Linked DNA regions of Homo sapiens. The protein of the gene in region 3 interacts with the protein of the main gene of each other region in a biochemical or structural test. Each region holds a gene or a part of one and is shown on either strand. Other genes may lie near its edges. The genes, in order: TRPV4, IWS1 and AKT3.

Region 1 (7,103 bases), on a different chromosome or scaffold from region 3:
CTGAGGGTGCTTGACTCAGTGCTTGGCACACAGTAAGTGCTCAATAAAGGCTTGCCACCATCATAATAGTTGTTAATGCAACCCAGGGTTGGCTAAAGCCAGACAGAACCTTGTACCCAGAGTTCATAACAGCAGCCACTTATCTCAAGAGATCGGAATTAATCTTTAACAGGTGAATTCTGCTCCAAATGGGCGATGTGGAGCATTCCAGAGGGCCCACTGGCATGAAATAAATGTTATCTTGGCTCCCCAGACCCTATCTGTGACAACAAGAGGAGCTGTTACCTGGGTCCCTATAATTTGGAGAACGGACTGGAGTGTCTTTCCCAAAGTCAAATGGGGGAAACTGAGGCAGACAGCAGGGTCAAGGGCCTGCATGGAGTAGAGACACCCACTTCATGTAGACCCCATCCCCCTAGGAACAGAGGAAGGAACTCAAAGGACTTTGACCATCTCAAAAGTATTTGTTCAGACAACCATGCCATAGATACTGACTGAGCACCTACTATGTGCCAGGCACATGAGGCTCAGTCTTGTGTGTTTCCTTCCCTCCTACATCTCCTTCCAGCTGCCGCTCTCCACTCAGAGCTTGGATGACTTCCCCAGCCTTGGGGCCAGCCTCTCTGTCTGAGCTCCTCCAATCTTTCCCACTCTGCAGCCACAGGGACCTTTCTAGAACAGACAAACAACCGTGTCACTCCCAGGCAGGACTTCTGGGCCTCTGGGTCTGATTTAGCTCCTGCCTGTCTGATCCCTCACCCTTTCCAGTCACGTCACAAACTCCAGACAAACAGAACTATTTCTCTGCTCTATAAACCCCAGGTGTAGCCACCTGGTAACAGGTAAAAGTCATATCTCTGCTAGTGCCATTCTCTTTGCCTGAATACTCTTTCCTCTACTTCTGCATTTATTCTTTAAGGTGCGGCTTAAACACTACCTTGACCAAGCCCTCGTGGGTCCTTCCTGGGCCAGTCCTCCTACCCTACGGCATTCTCCCCTGACCCCATCCATTCCACAGCATACATTTACTAAGCGTCGGCCATCCATGCACACCTTGCTAGATGCTCACAAGTCAGGTGTGGGAGCTCCTCCCCGGGGGGCCACAAGGGAAAATCCTTCTTGCCTTCACACGCCTCAGGCTACAGCGAAGCTGGGATTGGAAGCATCTCACTGCTCCAGTGCCCAGCCCAGAGCTGGCACAGGTGAGCTTGCAGAGAGCATTTGCTGGAGGAGGGAGTAAGTGGCAGAGGCCCAGTTGGCACCAGATAAGGCAGGAGGAACCTCCACAGCCCCTTCCCCAGATATAAGGTATCTGGGTTTCACCTGGGGAATCCCAGCCATCCTCACCGGAGCTCATGTGAAACATCCCTCCTGGGGGCATCACACCCTTTTTGTTCAGGCAACCATTCCCTGGTTACCTCCATTTCAAAACAGCCCCACCTTGATCTTACAAAGTGAACCGCCCTGAACTATGACTGCCATTTGCCATTTGTGTCTGGGACCCCTTCCGCGTGCAATTCACCAATCAAGGTGGGTGTCCAGGCTTTCTGGTTCCCATCATTCTTCAAACAGAATGAACTAGAGAAATGTGGAAATGGCCAATTGACTTTTTTCACCCTCTTTGTTAAGAAAATGTTTGGGGCAACGACAACTGGTTAAACATTGATGGCAGCCAACAGTGGCTGTGCCAGGTTCCTGGAAGGTCATCGGTCCTCACGACAGCCCTGGGGGCTTGCCCTCAGGCACCCCAGTATTACAGAGGAGAGAACACAAAGGCTCAGACAGCTAAGGGACCAGGCCAAGGTCACACAGCAGGGGACTGCAGAGCACACCCCGGGCCCCACACAGGCCCGCTCTTAGCCCCGCAGATAACCCAGGCCTGACCTTTCTACCCTTGTTCCCCCAAAAGCCCACCTCGTCACCCTCCTCAGGAGCCCGGGGAGTCCCGACTTACCCTCTGCCCTTGCTCCGGAGCCAAAGTGGCAAAGCTTAAATCCTCAAGCGGTTCTTAGCATCCCAGAACAAAGCTCCCACAGGGTATCTGCCTAACATTTCAGGGGTTCACGGCCCCTCTGCCCCCAGCAGAGGCTCTTGTTTTAGAAGCTGAGCCAGAACAGCCACAGGGCCCACCTCTGCCCTGCCACTTCCCAAGCACCCCGGGGGCACCAGGCCCTGTGTGCAGAGCTGGCCCCAGGACAGGCCACCTGGTGTGGTGGGAAGGGCTTTGGGGCTGGATAGTCCCTGGGTTTAAATCCCAATTGTCTAGATCCCCGACCTAAGCCTCAGTTTCCCCATCTGCAAAACAGAGAGGACAGACAGAGGGAACAGCTGGGGCAGGCTGGAGCAGTGGGTGGCTCGATGAATGCATCTGTGGTTGGTGTTTCCAGGCAAGCGGGGAGTGTGGGAGTCTCTCTCTCCCCCACCCCCACCCCCGCTACCCACCCCCAGGAGCCACCCGCCCCCGGGACGTCCTGAGAGTCCAGGGCAGAACTAGAGGTTAAAGATTTTCATGCCTCTTGGAGGAAACAGCCGTCTCTCCGGGACTCAGTAACCAAGAAGAAGCCTTTGGAAGCTCCAGACTCCAAATTCCCTCCGACATGCTCAGGGGCCAAGGGCAAACCTTAGGTCCCCCGAAATCCCTCTTCCAAGTCTCCTAAGGTGGGCTGCAAGGCTCCGGGCCTTTGGTTCCCTGGCTTGGGGTCTCAGGGAACCGAACCGCCCTCCCCCCAGACCTGCTACCCCAGGCCCCACGTTGGTGCCCATTTCACAGGTGATAAAACCGAGACCCAAAGAGCCGGTGTCCGGCCCAAGGGCACTTAGCTGAGAGGCTGGCGCCTGCGGAACCTGGTGCCTTCCGTCTCCCGCGCCCCTGGCCCGCATTTTGGAGCCTCGGGACCCCCCGGAGCCGGACGGGCCACGGAGATGTCCCCAGGGGCGCGAGGGGACCTCGGCTGAGCCGCCCCTCCCGGGCCCGGGCCCCACTTACCTCCGGGACGGCTGGGCGCCGGCGGCCGGGAGATCCGCGCTTCCTGAATCCCGGCCGGCCCGCCCGGCGCCCGTCCGCCCGCGGGTCCCTCCTCCGCCGGCTCAGGTTCCAGCCGCGCGCCGCCCCCGGCCAGCTCCCCGCCCACCCGCCGGCTCGCGGACCCCGCCGAGCGCAGGCCCTAGAAGGGGCGGCCCCTACTCGCACCCCGCCCGCCCAGCGAGGGCCTCCCCTGCGGGGGAGGTGCAGGGCCAGGGCCTCAGTTTCCTCGCCTGGAAAATGGGTGTCGCGATCCCCGGATAGAGCGGCAGACGGTCTTTGGAGAGGGCTCTAGTTGGAATCGGCTCCGATTCGATCTTGCTCCGTGACTTCGGGCCGCCCTGGGACTGTGTCCTAGTCTCTAAATGGGCGTCCCGGCCCAGTCCTCCACGTGTTTGCTCATTCATTCATTCAGCAGACAATTTCCTCCGAGGCGTTGAAGGAGGTCCCTACCCTCGGGTATGGCCCATAGAGATGGTTCAGGGGTAAATAAATGTGAGCTGCTCTCCTTGGTCTTCACCCAGTGCTTACTGCGAAGCCTGCCTCGGAGTAGGCCATCAATGTTTTGTTGCTGTTGTTTTTGAGACAGGGTCTCACTCTGTTGCCCAGGCTGGAGTGCGGTGGCGTGATCAGGAATCACTGCAGCCTCAACCACCAGCGTTCAAGCAATCCTCCCGTATCAGCCTCCCTAGTAACTGAGACCACAGACGCCTACCACCATGCTTGGCTAATTTTATTTAAATTTTTTGCAGAGATAGGGTCTCACTATGTTGCCTAGGCTGGTCTCAAACTCCAGGCTCAAGCGATCTACCCACCTCGGCCTCCCAAAGTGCTGGGATTAGAGGTCTGAGTCACCGTGCCTGGCTCAATGCGTTTTTGTTTATTTTTTTTATTATTATTATTATTTTTGATACATGTTCTCCCTTTGTCACCCAGGTTGAAGTGCAGTGGCATGATCACGGCTCACTACAGCCTCAAACTCCTGGCCTCAAGAGATCCTCCCACCTCAGCCTCCTGAGCAGCTGGGAGTACAGGCATGCGCCACCACACCCCACTAATTTTTATTTTTTTGTAGAAGGGGGGGTGGGGGAGGGCAGCCGGTCTACAACTCCTGGCCTCAAGTGATCCTCCCACTTCAGTCTCCCAAAGCACTGAGAGTATAGGCATGAGCCACCACACCTACCCATGTATTTTCTTTTATCAGATAACAAAGGTGGGCCCCAACACATAGCCATACCCTCTACCCAGCACTGAGTCCACTTGAATACCTCCACAGGATGGGCAGCTCACTTCCTCCAGGGTGGTTGGAAAGCCTAGCAGGCCCACAGCTTGGCTCTGTGACTCTCTAACCCAGCAGCCCTATGCAAGTCCCTTCACCTTTGTGCCTCAGTGCCTCTACATCCCCCTGTAGAGTGGGGCATACAAAAGTCCTCACCTCACAGTCGCAGTGAAGATGCTGGGAGCATCCAGGCTGTGCAGAGCCCTTTTTTTTTTTTTTTTGAGACAGAGTCTTACTCTGTCGCCCAGGCTGGAGTTCAGGGGTGTGATCTCAGCTCACTGCAACCTCTGCCTCCTGAGTTCAAGCGATTCTCCTGCCTCAGCCTCCTGGGGGCTGGGATTACAGGCATGCGCCACCACGCCAGGCTAATTTTTTGTATTTTTAGTAGAGACAGGGTTTCACCATGTTGGCCAGGCTGGTCTTGAACCCCTGACCTCAGTTGATCCACCCACTTTGGCCTCCCAAAGTGCTGGGATTACAGGTGTGAGCCGCCGTGCCCGGCCCAGAGCCATGCCATTTTCATCATTAGTGTTTTCACTAAATTGAGCTGACTCAGGGACTGTGGGGTAGCTCCTTCCTCCTCAGCTTGAAAATAGCAGCATCTCTCCTGAGGTCCAACAGCTGGAAAGTGAAATTTTAGAATTGCTGGGTGGGGAGGCGAAAGAGAGAGAGAGAGAGTGTGTGTGTGTGTGTACCCCTGAATAGGAGTGATGTGTTCACCTCCAGCGTGAAACATTTACAAAGAAACAAACCCTAATAATTAACTCACTGAGCACAGAAGCCTAGGGGATGAGAGGGAGAACAGGCTGTGAGGTAGGGTTTGCTCTACCCATTTTGCAAGTGGGAAACTGAGGCTTGGAGAGGAGTATGGCCTCTCCAAAAGCTGCTCCCTCCATGGTGGGGGTTGGGGTGGGAAAGAGAACCCTCTGAGGGTCCGGAGTAAACAGGCAGATGTCTGGCAGTGGAGAGGAAGGTAAACACAGGGCCCCTCACACCTCCCTGACAGACAGCTATCTGCTGGGGGCCCTCAGGGCTGGGGCTGGGGCTGGGCCAGGTTGAGAGTGGAGGAGTGAGTCTGGGACCCATTTCTGCAGAAAGGCCTGTCTCAATTTAAAGAAAATGGCAAGGGTGATTCCAGCCATAAGGCAGCTGATGTTGGGGACTGGAACTGGGGGAGATGGGGCCAGGGATGGCGACCTCCTCTTCTCTAAGCTCAGAGGGAAGGGGCCTGAGCGCTCAGCATCATCATCACTAACCCAGCTCTTTCCTGATCCCCATTTCACAGATGGGGCAACTGAGGCCCCCATGTAGGGAAGTGACTCATCTTGGGCTAAGCAGCTGGAGCTTGGCCTCTGCACCAGACACTGGGGTTCAAATCCTGCCCTGCCGCTGATGGGAGAAGGAGCTGTGGTGGGAGCTGTGGGCAAGAGCCTCCCTCTCTCTCTGTGCCTCAGTTTCCTCACCTAAAAAATGGGTACCAGTGTCCATGAAGCAAGGGAACGTGTTCATGACCACAGGTCTAGCACCTGGCACTTAGTAGGTGCTTTAAAAATACTGGTTGATGGGTCAGGCGAAGTGGCTCATGCCTGTAATCCCAGCACTTTGGGAGGCTGAAGTGGGCAGATCAACTGAGGTCAGGAGTTCGAGACCAGCCTGGCCAACATGATGAAACCCCGTCTCCACTAAAAATACAAAAATTAGTTGGGCATGGTGGTGGGCACCTGTAATCCCAGCTACCTGGGAGGCTGAGACAGAATTGCTTGAACCTGGGAGAGGGAGGTTGCAGTGAGCAGAGATCGTGCCACTGCACTCCAGCCTGGGCAACAGAGAGCGACTCCATCTCAAAAAAAAAAAAAGTCCTGGTTGATGGAGCTGGGGGAGAGGAGAATGGGAGGTTGCTGTTTGTTGGGCGTAGGGTTTCAGTTTTGCAAGATGCAAAGAGTTCTGGAGATGAACGAGGGTCACACAACAATATGAATATACTTTTTAAGTTTAATTTTTAATCTTTTTTTTTTTATTTTTAGAGAGAGACAGGGTATTGCTCTGTAGCCCAGGCTGTAGTGCAGTTGCCTGCTCATAGCTCACTGCAGCCTCAAATTCCTAGGTTCAAGCGATCCTCCTGCCTCAGCCTCCTGAATAGCTGGGACTATAGGTGTGTGTCACCAAGCCTGGCTTTTTAAATTTTATTTTTTGTACAGGTGAGGTCTCGCTATGCTGCCCAAGCTGGTCTCAAACTCCCGTGCTCAAGTGATCCTCATAACCTGGCCTCTCAAAACATTGGGATTACAGGCATGAGCCACTGTGCCTAGCCAGAAATAATGTTTCCTCTTAGGGAAGGAAAAACTTTCAAGGCCCTCAGCATTGGCTGTGAGTCATGTGGCAGCCACATGTGGGGCGCAGCCTTGCTCTCCACGTAGCTCCTGGACTGCCCCAGGTGGACTCAGCTACCTCCCCTAAGAAAGGTTCCTGGGCAGCAGCCAAGGGTCTGCATTTACCAAGTGCTTACTGTATGCCAGGTCCAGTGCCAGATGCTGGGGAGAGATTGGTGAGCCAGACAGGTCAGGATCTCAGGGACTTTATACCCAGGGTACCCAGTTATAAAAACAAGACACGTGCACCTCACTTTACAGTTGGCACAGTCCTGATCCTGCCACTAACTCAGTTCATCTTTTGACAGCCTGGAAAGGAGGAATTCTTCCACCATTTTATAGATAATGACACAAAGAGGCCACTTGTCTGAGATCATCCCACAACTGGTAAGATTTGAACCCAAGCCCAGCAGACTCTACAGTGTAGCATGAC
Region 2 (7,117 bases), on a different chromosome or scaffold from region 3:
TGTGTCTAGGATTTCTTTCAAAACAATTCAAGAATGGAGGGAAAGTAGCTAAAAGAAGACTAGCTATGTGTATTCAGTTGTTGAAATATATGCAACAGGTATATTATTCTATATTTGTAGAATTTGAAATTTTTCATAATTTAAAAAAATAGAAAAAACTGCCCAAGTAATACTGAAACTCTTCTTTGATATAGTATATTCCAATATCATATAACCTCACACCTGGAAAATTGTTCCTAATATAATAAACCAGAATTTCCCAGTTTTAATTTGTACCTTTAATGAACTCTGAAAATTTGACAGTTATGCTAATGTTCTACATTAAAATTGTTTCTCTCAATTTGTAGTTGTTAAAGGCAATTATTCTAATAGTTTTTTGGGTTTGACTGACATAGACAGATACAGAGCTTGGTGCTCTGCAGAAGATCCATCTTAAATTATTCTTTCTTGTAGGAAAAATTGTTTCTTTGAAAAACTGTTATTTTAAGGTTCAGAATTACAGTGAATTCAATATTAATAAAAAGTACTGTTTTAAAAAAAAATCTTTATTTTTTTTCTGAATAGGAAGACAGACAGTTGAACAATCAAAAAAAGCCAGCACTGAAAAAATTAACTTTACTGCCTGCTGTAGTTATGCACCTTAAGAAGTAAGTATTTTGTTTTCTTTAAAATGTCTTTTTCCTTTTCATGGAATGATAATTCAAATGATGTACTGGTGTTCTAGGAATATTAAATAATGATAGACTTCTATCGGTTCACAGAAAGATAATGAATAAAATTTCCTAAATTATATTTCTTCATAAATTTTTATTAAGCCTTGATGCCTGGTGCAAACAGAACAAATAAAAAATTGATACTAACGAAAGAAAAACTTGGAAACTACTAATTTTGTGTTTTTTTGTTTTGTTTTTGTTTTTTTGGTAAAGACAGGATCTTGCTATGTTGCCCAGGCTTGTCTTGAACTCCTGGGCTTAAGTAATCCTCCCACCTCATCCTCTCAAAGTGCTGGAATTACAGACATGAGCCACTGCACCTGGCCACTAATTTTGTTCTTTATAGACAGTTTTTGGTCTGGTAAAATTGCATCTGTTTTCTCCGTGTGATGGAAAATAGTAAATCTTGGAAGATCCTACCTGAAGGCTGCATTGTACAAGGCTTATATGACTCTAATGTGTCACAATTATTGATCCTTCTGAAGTAATGATGCCCTTTTTGAGTAGATCCTTGTTTCTAACTTTTTTCATTGATTTGCTTTTTTTTTTTTTTTTTTTTTAATTAGAGACAGGATCTCGCTGTGTTGCCCAGGCTGGTCTCGAACTCCTGGGCTCAGCCGATCTTCCCGTCTCAACACCCCAAAGGCAAAGTACTGGAATGGGATTACAGGTGTGAGCCACCACACCGGGCCCTGATTTGCTTATATTTCTGAGCAACCTTGCTTTCTCTTTGAACTAAGCCACAGCCTACTTTTGATGACTGAGGAAATGTATTGGTGCATCAGTGAGCTGCCACCAGCATGGCCTAGAGCATCTGTAACTAGAAAATTTCTCCCTCTATTCTAACAGGGGAAACTATCTGTGGCAGGTTTTATGTATATAATGTTATCTTTTCTATTAACATAACTGATTCCAGTACATAAAATGGAATTTAAGTATTATTTTATTGAGTTTTTTTTTTTTTTTTTTGTCCTGCCAGTGGAGTGCTAGTCTCATTGGTGTCCTGCAGAGAAGAGCAAATCTGGGTTCACCACCATGTAAAACTGTTCAAGAATCACTATTTTGATAGATTGAACGTTTTTTTTTTTTAGTTGAAAAGATTGGAGTTAATTGTTCTTACTGTCTGTACCATTCATATCAGCATTAATTTATCTTGTGTAACTTGAGTTTGTTTTGTTTTCAGCAAATCATCTTTGTCAAGTATATGCATTTCTGGAAAATAAGAACTAAATGTCATACTGCTTTCGAAACCAGAATGGTGTTCAGTAAATGTCAAATTTATATGAGTAACGCTTTAAAAGCAGTTTTTAGAAACATCACTAAATATGTAAGAAAAGTCGGAAGATACAGTAGAACCAAGGTTCACAGAATTTTTAAAAATTATTGTTACTGCAGGCAGGACCTTAAAGAAACATTCATTGACAGTGGTGTGATGTCTGCCATCAAAGAATGGCTCTCACCTCTACCAGATAGGAGTTTGCCTGCACTCAAGATCCGGGAGGAGCTGCTGAAGATCCTGCAAGAGGTTAGAGGCAGATAATCTGACTGTTCTTTATTAATTATCTAATGTGGTCTGTATGGTCATAACCTGTGTAGTTTACAGTGTTTTTATATGTTATCTCTGCTACAGCCTGCCAGAAGAGGGGTTGGAAAAAAGGAACATATCTAATAAAATGAGCGTGAAAGGGAAGACCTTATAAAACTTCATGTAACTATCGCATTGAAGGGAAAAAATCTTAGAGTAGCTGTAATGTGTCTGAGAAGAGTAGTACAGTAGTGGGCAAGTTCCAGGGAGAAATGTGACGCAGAATGAACACCAAATTCAGAATCATATGAACTTGCATTTGAATCTTGAGCTGGGCCACCTTACGTAGTTGTGACACCTTGGGTAAGCTATTTAACTTCTGAAGGAATTCCCAAGGAAACCTCCTATGCCACGCACTGTGCCAGGTGCTTTATATATGTATTGATTCGTTTTTTCCTCACAGTAAACTGAGAAGGTAGGTGTATTATTTCCATTTTACAGATGAGGGAATTAAGATGCAGAGAAGTTAAACGACTCGTCAAGGTCACATAGCTAGAAGGTGGCTGTGCTTGGGTTCAGTCTTAGGTCTATTGGATTCTGAGGCCTGTGCTGGCTCCTGTATTAAACTGCTAACCTCTGAGTACGCTTGGTTCATACTTTCTCACATTGTTAGGTTTTACTTCAACTCAGCTGTAATACTGAGCTCTCAACCTCTTTTTGTTTTTTTTTTTTTTGAGACGGAGTTTTGCTTCTGGTGCCCAGGCTGGAGTGCAGTGGCACCACCTCGGCTCACTTCAACCTCCGCTTCCTAGGTTCAAGCGATTCTCCTGCCTCAGCCTCCCGAGTAGCTGGGATTACAGGCGCCTGCCTCCACACCTGGCTAATTTTTGTATTTTTAGTAGAGATGGGTTTCACCACATGTTGGCCAGGCTGGTCTTGAACTCTTGACCTCAGGTGATCCACCCGCCTCAGCCTCCCAAAGTGCTGGGATTACAGGCGTGAGCCACCATGCCTGGCCTGAACTCTGAACTTTTGATGTGGACACAAAGTATCTTTGTGTTCTATGTCTGTAGATCCTGAAAATGGAATTTTTTATTTGTTCTGTTGTGAATGTGCCAGGTCTCTAGAATAGACTAGCAAGACCCCCAGCTTCCGAGTGATTAATATGTGTGTATGTGTTTATGTTCCCCAGCTGCCTAGTGTGAGCCAGGAGACCCTGAAGCATAGTGGGATTGGACGAGCAGTGATGTATCTCTATAAACACCCCAAGGAGTCAAGGTCTAACAAGGACATGGCAGGGAAATTAATCAGTATGTAAATTTTCCTTTTTGTTTGTTGTGTTTATGTGTATAGATAAGAGAGAGATGCGTATATATAAAAGCTGTATTTTTACCAGTATTTGTTTTAAACGAGTCGGTAAAGTGGAATAGAAATTTTTGAATAACTTCTTACAGGTACTAGCATTTTCTCTTAGACTTTAAAAAAAAACCTCAATATAATTAAGTATGCTATTCAGTATTAAAAATAGCAAGTAAGAGGCTGGGTGTGGTGGCTTAACGCCTGTAATCCCAGCACTTTGGGAGGCTTAGGTGGGCGGATCACAAGGTCAGGAGATCGAGACCATCCTAGCTAACACGATGAAACCCCATCTCTACTAAAAATACAAAAAATTAGCCGGGCATGGTGGTATACACGAGTAGTCCCAGCTACTCGGGAGGCTGAGGCAGGAGAATCACTTGAACCCGGGAGGCGGAGGTTGCAGTGAGCCGAGATCGCGCCACTGCACTCCAGCCTGGGCAACAAGAGCGAGACTCCGTCTCAAAAAAAAAAAAATTGCAAGTAAAAAGTATGCATTTTCTAGTCATGGGTCGAGAGCATGGAGAAAGAGAGGGGTTAGATTGCAGGCCATGGAGTTGATATTACCTGGGTTCAGATCATGAATCCACCACCTACCTTACTGCATTTCCTTAGCTAGTGATTTGTGCTCTGTAAAGTTGAGATAATTATGTGTTTTCTTTTGGGTGACTTTAAAGATTAAATGAGAGGTTGTGTCTAAAGCACGGTGCTTAGCACATAGTAAGTACTCAAGAAACAGCCATTGTTGTTGTTACTTGCACAATGGTCTTCAAAACCTTTTTGCATGTTCTTATTTAATGATGCCAGAGAAATCCAGAGAAGTCTAAACCAAAATTTATGTAATCAAGCGCCATGTTTGTGAAATTCTTCAGTTTTACGAATGAAACCCGTGTTTGTTTTTGTTGTCCTCCTTAACTCTTCCTGTCCTCCATGTTGAAAAGGAATTTTTAGAACTTCAAGGCTAGATTGAAAAAGTAACTACTACGTTCGAATAGAATAATTATTTTTCTTTTGAATTGTTAAGTTTATCAAAAGCTTTTAGAGAAATGTAAATTTCTTCTATAAACCAGAGATATACTACCATCTTTGATCTTGTCAGTAAACTGCAGCTTACTGCCTGTTAAGTAATAAACTTTTGGTGCTTTTATGCAGTAGTTTGCAACTTTATTTTTTTGCCCTAGACTGAGAAAAGCAGAATATCCCCACTGGTTTCCATGACTTACTACAGCAGTGATTCTGAATCCAGAAGTGGGGTCAATGGGGTGGTTTTAAAAGATACGTGGACCCCCTGAGAATCCCTGCTTCCTTCTTTGTGTGACAGCACCCATGTTCGGTCTATAAAGGTCCTTTCTTGTTTTTATAGTGTATTAAATGTAGCAGTAAGCTACATTATGTCTTAGAACAAAGACATCAGTTGGCTCCTGGACTTTGACTGACTGAACAGTGGCATATACTTTCTTTCATGGTCATTGTAGCAGCTATGTTAGACTTAATGAAGTACAAAGTCTCCACCCGCACTATTAAACTGTAATTTTTAAAGGTACAGACCATTTTGTAAGGTAGTTGTAAAGGAGTTTGTTCTGGGTTAGGATAAGAAAGCAGAATTTCAAGACTTTTTTATTTCCAGTAGCGTAAACTTAGAAATTAGTCTGCCTTTTAAAATAAATAAATAAAAATTTTAAATAAATGTCTTTTATGAAATGTCAATCCAGCTAATTGTTGACTATTAAAGTGTATCACATGTTACTTTCTTTAAATCTCTGTGGTGATCTTTTACATTAAATTTTCTGAATCAGCCAGAGTCAGTCAGTACACTGGCATTATGCTTTGTTTATCCTATAAATTACTCTGAAATAATGGACTCTTCAAGGAAAGAATATTCTAAATGTCTAGAATATCCCCTCACACTGGGGTGCAATTATTTGAAAAAAATGGAAATGCAATTTTATGGACAAAATAATTGATTTTTTTCTTACTACAGATGAGTGGTCTAGGCCTATATTTGGTCTTACCTCAAACTACAAAGGAATGACAAGAGAAGAAAGGGAGCAGAGAGATCTAGAACAGATGCCTCAACGACGAAGAATGAACAGGTATGAGGGAACAGGTATGAGTAAGTGGAATACACGTTATTGTTGCAGTAACTCAGTTTTAAGTAAGATCATTAGGAAGCCTGCAAGATGATAGGATTTCCTTTCCTCTCAGCTTGATATGTGTACATAATTCATAATATCCTTTTAGTTTAAATGTGATAGTGTATAGTGAGGGTCCTGTCCTCCTAACCAGACCTTTCTGGGTCAGTTTGTTGGAACAGGGCCTGTTTCAGGATACTGATTGCTTGTGTTGTTCCATCCACTTGAGAAAACAACTTTCTGGGTCCCGTTTCCGAGTTCCTAGAAGAAAAAATGTTATAGTTTTAGTTTGTATTGATAATAGTGGATACAGTTGCATCCAGGAGGACAGGGTCATTAGTTACAAATGTGGCAATTACGGCTCATCCACAAGGAAACCTGTTATGCAAATGAATACTAAAATGAGTAGTACTTTTTAAAGATTAGGAATTATTTTCCCTGATCCATCGTAAAAGAGCTATTAATAGTTATGGTCTAAGTTTGATTTTTAGTTTGCTCTTTTTCTGAGTTATTAGGTTCTAATATTCCTGGTATCTCCTTGTTTACTTTTTTTTCAGCACTGGTGGTCAGACACCCAGAAGAGACCTGGAAAAGGTGCTGACAGGAGAGGAGAAGTAAGGTTTTAATGTTAATTTTTCTTCCTAGACTATATAGAGAATTTCCGTTTGCTGCTTTAAGAAAAGTAGTAAATGAAATGATGTTATGCTCTCATTTGTGGGAGGTGACTTTCATTTTAACGTTTAGTATCTACAAAGCATTGTATTGGGTACTCTGGGGATGTAAGGAAAATTGAGAAAATAATTCATTCAATAAAGATTTTATTGCTGTTTGCTAAGTGCTAGACTCCTTGTTGTGCTCTGAGAATATAAAAACAAATTAAAAATAGTCTATGCTCTCAAAAGTGTAAGTCTTTACAAGGATGATAGGCAAAGGGAGGTCTTTGGTAAAGCCATGGGCTAAGTGTGCCAGGTCTGTGTTTGGAATGGCAAGTAGACTGAAGGGGTTGGACAGTAGTATGGGGCCTGAGGTGGTAGAAGATAAGGTTGGAAATAATAGACCGGTGAAGGGCTTTGAATCAAGATGAGGAATTTTCACGTCTTGTGATTCCACAGGAAGTTTTTGAGGCTGGATGTGAAGCCATCTGGTTTGATTTGATTTAGGGTGCTGATGCCAATGGCATCATGTAGGATGGATTGGAGGGCAGTGGGACTGAGGCAGTGATACAGCTAAACAGAGGTGGTAGTTGGGAAACAGAGGGGTGAGAAGACATTGCAGAGGCAAAGCTGTCATATGTTGGTGACTTAGTGGGAGAGAAGATGGCTAGAGTTGAAGACCTCAGCCAAAATTTTAACCTGAGTGCTGAGACAGTGTTTATTACCTTTCACCAAAAT
Region 3 (5,137 bases):
AGTACACCCAATCCCCTCTTCCAACACATGTGAGGTTTCCATGTGAAAGTACTTTTTCATAGGTTACAATAAATTGCTTGCAGTTACAAATTTGGAGGTGTTTCAGCTTGTATTGTTTCACGAGGAATTTCTTAGGGGCACTTGGCCTACACCCTGTTTTTGTTCTAGAATTACCTGCCGTTAAGGTCAGATAAATTTTCAGTAAACAGATTATGGCACAAATCAATGTGTCCTTTCCCGGACAGAAGAGATGGCTCTCTGGCCATGTCCTAACACCAGACTGTCCTTATTTAAGAGGCAGGCGTGTCTTTTGTCTAGGTTGTCTTCAAATTTAACCCATTAAACCAGTTAACCTTATTTCATATGTGAAGGGCTTTGATGTGGACAAGATGAGGCACAAACTTTTCATATAATTTCCACATTTTTAGCAACAGGTTTTTTTCTCCAACAACAGTTTTCATCATAAAAGGTGACTAAACCAGCAAATGAGAAGACAAATAACATTGAAGAACATGAGCTATTGAAACTTACTTTTTATTATTTTTTCCAGTTACCCAGCATGCCACAATCTGATTGCTGACCTGGATGGAACAGAGTGAAATAAATGATTTACAAAGAGATATTTACATTCATCTGGTTTAGACTTAATATGCCACAACGCACCACGACCTTCCCAGGGTGACACCGCCTCAGCCTGCAGTGGGGCTGGTCCTCATCAACGCGGGCGCTGTCCCCGCACGCAGTCGGGCTGGAGCTGGAGTCTGACTCTAGCTGAGCAGAGCTCCTGGTGTATGTTTTCAGAAATGGCTTGAAGTTATGTGTTTAAATCTGCTCATTCGTATGCTAGGTTATACATATGATTTTCAATAAATGAACTTTTTAAAGACTTGAGTTGTAATGTTTCCTTTTTATCTTGTAGTGATGAACAAAACACACCAAAAAGGCACATATTTTAACTAGGCCAAAGTATATTAAGGACCAAACTTTTTTTCCTGCCATTCATTTTTCTTTTCATGATCTATATATCAATCATCCTTCACCTTTAATCAATGTCCCATCAGACTCCATTTTATTTATTTATCGTCCTACTTTGTGCACAATCAATCAATCAGGAGACACCAGGAAGCACTATGCATTACTCTTTCCATTCTGTTAAACAACGAAAACAGACAAAAAAGCATCTTTGGCTCGGTGGTGTCAGATTTTTTTCTTCAATACGCAGTATTTGAGAGGAGCCTAAAAACGTACTTAGTGAAATTAGAAAATTTACTTAGAGTATATCAAATATCTGTACACAGATAATTATTTGTCTAAAATAGTATTTCTACTATACACAATTAAGCCCTCAAATGCTTTAAAGTAATAAAAACGGACACTGGACATACCGTGTTGTATCTGAGAATGACAAACACTAAAGGCAAGGCTGCAGTTAGTTAGGACAGGTCCCTGACCTTCGGCTGCCCTGCCTGGCCAGCGAGCCATCATCCTCATCACCATCTCAACACAGAGCTGATGTCACCATATGCTCAGCCTTGCCTCTCAGAAGTGATGTGGATTAGGCTTTGGAGGCGGTGGCATGATCTACACACAGAGACCATTTGAATCTCTTGAGCATGTAAAAGGTTCAAGCCTGAAACAGTAGAACTTCTATTCAGATTCAGAAGTTTTTTATTTCATCAAATGTGCTAGACATAAAGGCTGTCACATAAGATATTTTAATTGTCCTTAATTCTGTTTTAGATATACTGTGAATAAATTATACAATATTCTAAAAATAGCACCTTTAAAGAATTATAGAGGTCACTTTTTTTTAGCCTCCTGGATCTGTCAACCCCAGTGGTTTTGAGAGAAGAGCACATGTGAGAATGCCCTCAAATTTGGCCGTGTGACATACACATACATGCTTGACTCACTCTGGTCCCAAAAGCCATTCCTCTGTCTGGCTTCGTCACAGGAGCAAAGCCAAGTTTCTACAATAGTAGCTTTATGAGGTAAAATCAGAAAAAGGCCCCATCCAGAATGATTCAACGTGAAGTCAGACTGCAGTCCAGCCATCCTACCCATCTACATCACCCACGTCTAAGTTTGTTAATTTGCCATGACATGTTGTTAGAAATACACTCTAAGAAAGGAAATATGCAGAGCAGTACATTATCAGGAAGACGTTAATGAAAAGCTACATTCCTTCAGATTCTGGGTCCAAACCGTGTGTTGTATAGATGATTCGGGTCTGAATGTCCCCAGGGTCTGAGACCTCCTTCATCCCTGGCTTCACAGTACATCCATCCTAAATCCAGTGCTGAGAGGTCAGCGTTTCCCCTCAGAAGCAGCCGTTCATCAAAGTTTGCACAACCGCACTACTGCCATTTCACTGAAGTAAAAATGATCCCCTATGTGTGTGTGTGTGAGCTACAAGGAATTATTTCTATATTTTCCTGTCACATTTTATACAAGGTAGGTTAATACCAGCTGGGGCTATTAAAAATCATGTTTTCATTAAAGAAGATTTAATTTGGGGGGATTATAGAACCACATCCAACAACAATAAACAGAGAAGTAGCAGATTGACATAGTGCTTTATTTAAGCTGTCTGTACGAAGGAAAATCATGTTCATCCCTATCATATACGTGTAAAAATACTAAGGATGTACAGTGTACAAAAACAGTTTCTCCTAGTTATTCCACATCCTTGTGGGTCATATACTTCAGGAAATAGACAGGTTTAGTATGACCAACAGTAATAGTAATACAGTTTCTTGGGTTTATAGTTGCATCTGCTTAAAATCCTTAACCAGATGACTAGATCTTGCGCAGATCTAATGAAAGAACTAGCAAGGTCAAGAAATGTCACAAACTATAAAGCTACAGGGAGGTAATTCAATTACCAATTTAGAGGTTTTCTTTTTATTTAAATAAATACTTTACATTTCATGCTTGCCTGTAATGCACTACCAGGAGCAAGATAAGGAAATTCTACTGTAGACAGTACAAACAGTAGCAGCAAAGTGTGTATGTTGAGGTGTAATAGAGAGACCCTGCAGTTAGTAAGGAAGGCCCTTACTTTTGTACTCTAGGAGAAGCAAGTGGCCCCTGCAAGAACAGTCAGCTTTAAGAAGCTGGAAATCAGGGATGGGAAATGGAAAACAATACTTGAATAATGCTATGTAATTAGTGTAGAAAGCAAAGCTGAGCGCGACCCTGCCAACCATCTAAGCAGAAATGGCCAATTTCCTCCAAGATGGCTGCATTATGACAAGAAGTCAAGCTTCATGACAGTTAGTATGGGCTGGAGTCTGCAAAGTCTGAACTGTATTCTCATAGAATGATTCCAGGTTTCAGGGTGTTCCACCTGCCAGAACCCAAAACTACAACTATGGGCGACACAAGGGAAGTTTTAGAAATCTCCCTCTACACGCATTTCTGGTTTTCTATTATTCCTCCATGGCAGCTGACAGATCTGGAAGTGAAAATAGGGGATTCTCAAAATCAAAGCCAAGAAGACACCTTGTGTGACACCAATGGAGTCTCAGAGGGTGGAATAGAAGTGACTGAGCCCCAGGCATGGCTGGGAACTGAGAGCCAGTGTGAGGAGTGGCCCGCCTGGGGCAATGTCAGTGCCAGTCATTAATCTTTAAGAAGTGTCCTTGGCCAAGGTCATGGGAATCACTTTAAGATTTGCGGGAGAAAAAACCAAAACAACAAAAAGCTGTGTGCTTAGTGTTCGGTGTCATGCTTTCCCTCTAGAGGAGTAAGTGCTCTGAACATCAGCCAGTCTCAGCTTTCTGCTCTTCCTCTCACCTGTTTCTTTCTTATATAATGGATGCAAGACAACTTAAAGAACATACCTTCTAGTCTACTTTTTTGTCAAAATGAAACATTCAACATAATTCCAAGTGAAAAAAAAAAGATTAGCTATGTGTGTAAGTAAGAATGAACTACCATTTACTGTAACTTCCTACTCAATACTAAGGATGAACTTCACTCAGGTAGAAATATGAAAAAGAAGGATAACGTTGATGTCTGAATATGTCTTAGCTGCCTTAGTAAAATGCCCTTTAACCCCCGTCAGTCCCAGTGGCCCACCCACTGCCAGCAGTGGTTTCATAGCTATAAATCCACACTTCCAGCGTCAAGAGGCTAAGACATCTGCATATGAATATGATTCATCCTACTTAGAAAGTCACTTGCTCTTTCATACAATGCAATCATAATACTACGTCATGCTGTAGTCTTCCGTTTGGGAGCTGTCAGAGTTTAACTAAAATACATTTCCATGATCACTCCGCGGAGTAGGATGGCCTTCTGCTTGCCGCAAGAGTGGCCCCCAGCCCCTAGGACTTCACAGGCTGCTTTGGAAATTGTCAGCTCCTAGCACCAAAGGGTTTAATCTGAAGATCATCATTAATGAAGGAGAAAGATGAGGTTTGCATACATGCCCCCTTTCAGTGAGAAATGTTGGAATCTGGGGGACATGAGTATATACAGAAAAAGAAAAGCTGGAGGTGTTCTCTTTTTTTGTTGTTTTTTCCCTGATGGCTTAATTCAGTGATAAATGTACCATGATCCCAAGAAACACACCAGGTTCTTAGCCTTCACTGCCCATTTCCTAAATACTCAAGATGTGTTCATTTTGCCACGTAAAGATCATTTCTTATCTTCACTCAGGTCTCAATTTTCTTCATTACTTTTTGTTGCCAGGTCATCATAACGTTTCAAATTCTTAAATGAGCAAACGTCAACAGCTATTTGTTTCATTAACCCCTTGGCATGCATAGTTGGGGATTTTCTCATTTTCAGTACCAAGGGGTTAAATGGCAGCATCTCTTCTCCCAAAGCCAAATTCTAACCAATATATTCCATTTCAGAGCCTTATCATTTTTTTTAACAGAGGAGAAAAAGTGCATGATTCTCATCAGCGTGTACAATCCTTGCACATGGGTCAAAAGTAACTGCAGTAAGTCTATTTTATATAAGTTGGAGCTGCGTTTGCTAACATGACATACAATTCTCATCACTAAAAAATAAATACTACTGCAATATAAACAAAATCATAAAAGGACATTCAAAGTTTCAACATCTGAGAAAAAGCTAATTCACGTAGAACTGAAAGTAAAAAATTAAATAAGGCAAACACCTG

Evidence for each region.
Region 1: the proteins of AKT3 (region 3) and TRPV4 interact in a test that uses a peptide from one of them, tested with the Homo sapiens proteins (one study listed by BioGRID).
Region 2: of the proteins of AKT3 (region 3) and IWS1, one has a biochemical effect on the other in vitro, tested with the Homo sapiens proteins (one study listed by BioGRID).

What each region holds. Positions count from the first base shown.
Region 1 is NC_000012.12:109,830,364-109,837,466, forward strand, and holds the start of TRPV4 (transient receptor potential cation channel subfamily V member 4), read right to left. Parts: upstream 3,036-7,103; 5' UTR 2,987-3,035; exon of another isoform or gene 2,985-2,986; intron 1-2,984. UniProt on the Homo sapiens protein: Non-selective calcium permeant cation channel involved in osmotic sensitivity and mechanosensitivity. Activation by exposure to hypotonicity within the physiological range exhibits an outward rectification.
Region 2 is NC_000002.12:127,488,402-127,495,518, reverse strand, and holds part of IWS1 (protein IWS1 homolog), read left to right. Parts: intron 1-564; coding exon 565-647; intron 648-2,108; coding exon 2,109-2,238; intron 2,239-3,430; coding exon 3,431-3,548; intron 3,549-5,575; coding exon 5,576-5,687; coding exon of another isoform or gene 5,688-5,701; intron 5,702-6,283; coding exon 6,284-6,340; exon of another isoform or gene 6,341-6,561; intron 6,562-7,117.
Region 3 is NC_000001.11:243,499,206-243,504,342, forward strand, and holds the end of AKT3 (RAC-gamma serine/threonine-protein kinase), read right to left. Parts: 3' UTR 582-5,137; coding exon of another isoform or gene 538-581; 3' UTR 519-537; downstream 1-518. Other genes in the region: SDCCAG8 (serologically defined colon cancer antigen 8), read left to right, coding at 551-580. UniProt on the Homo sapiens protein: AKT3 is one of 3 closely related serine/threonine-protein kinases (AKT1, AKT2 and AKT3) called the AKT kinase, and which regulate many processes including metabolism, proliferation, cell survival, growth and angiogenesis.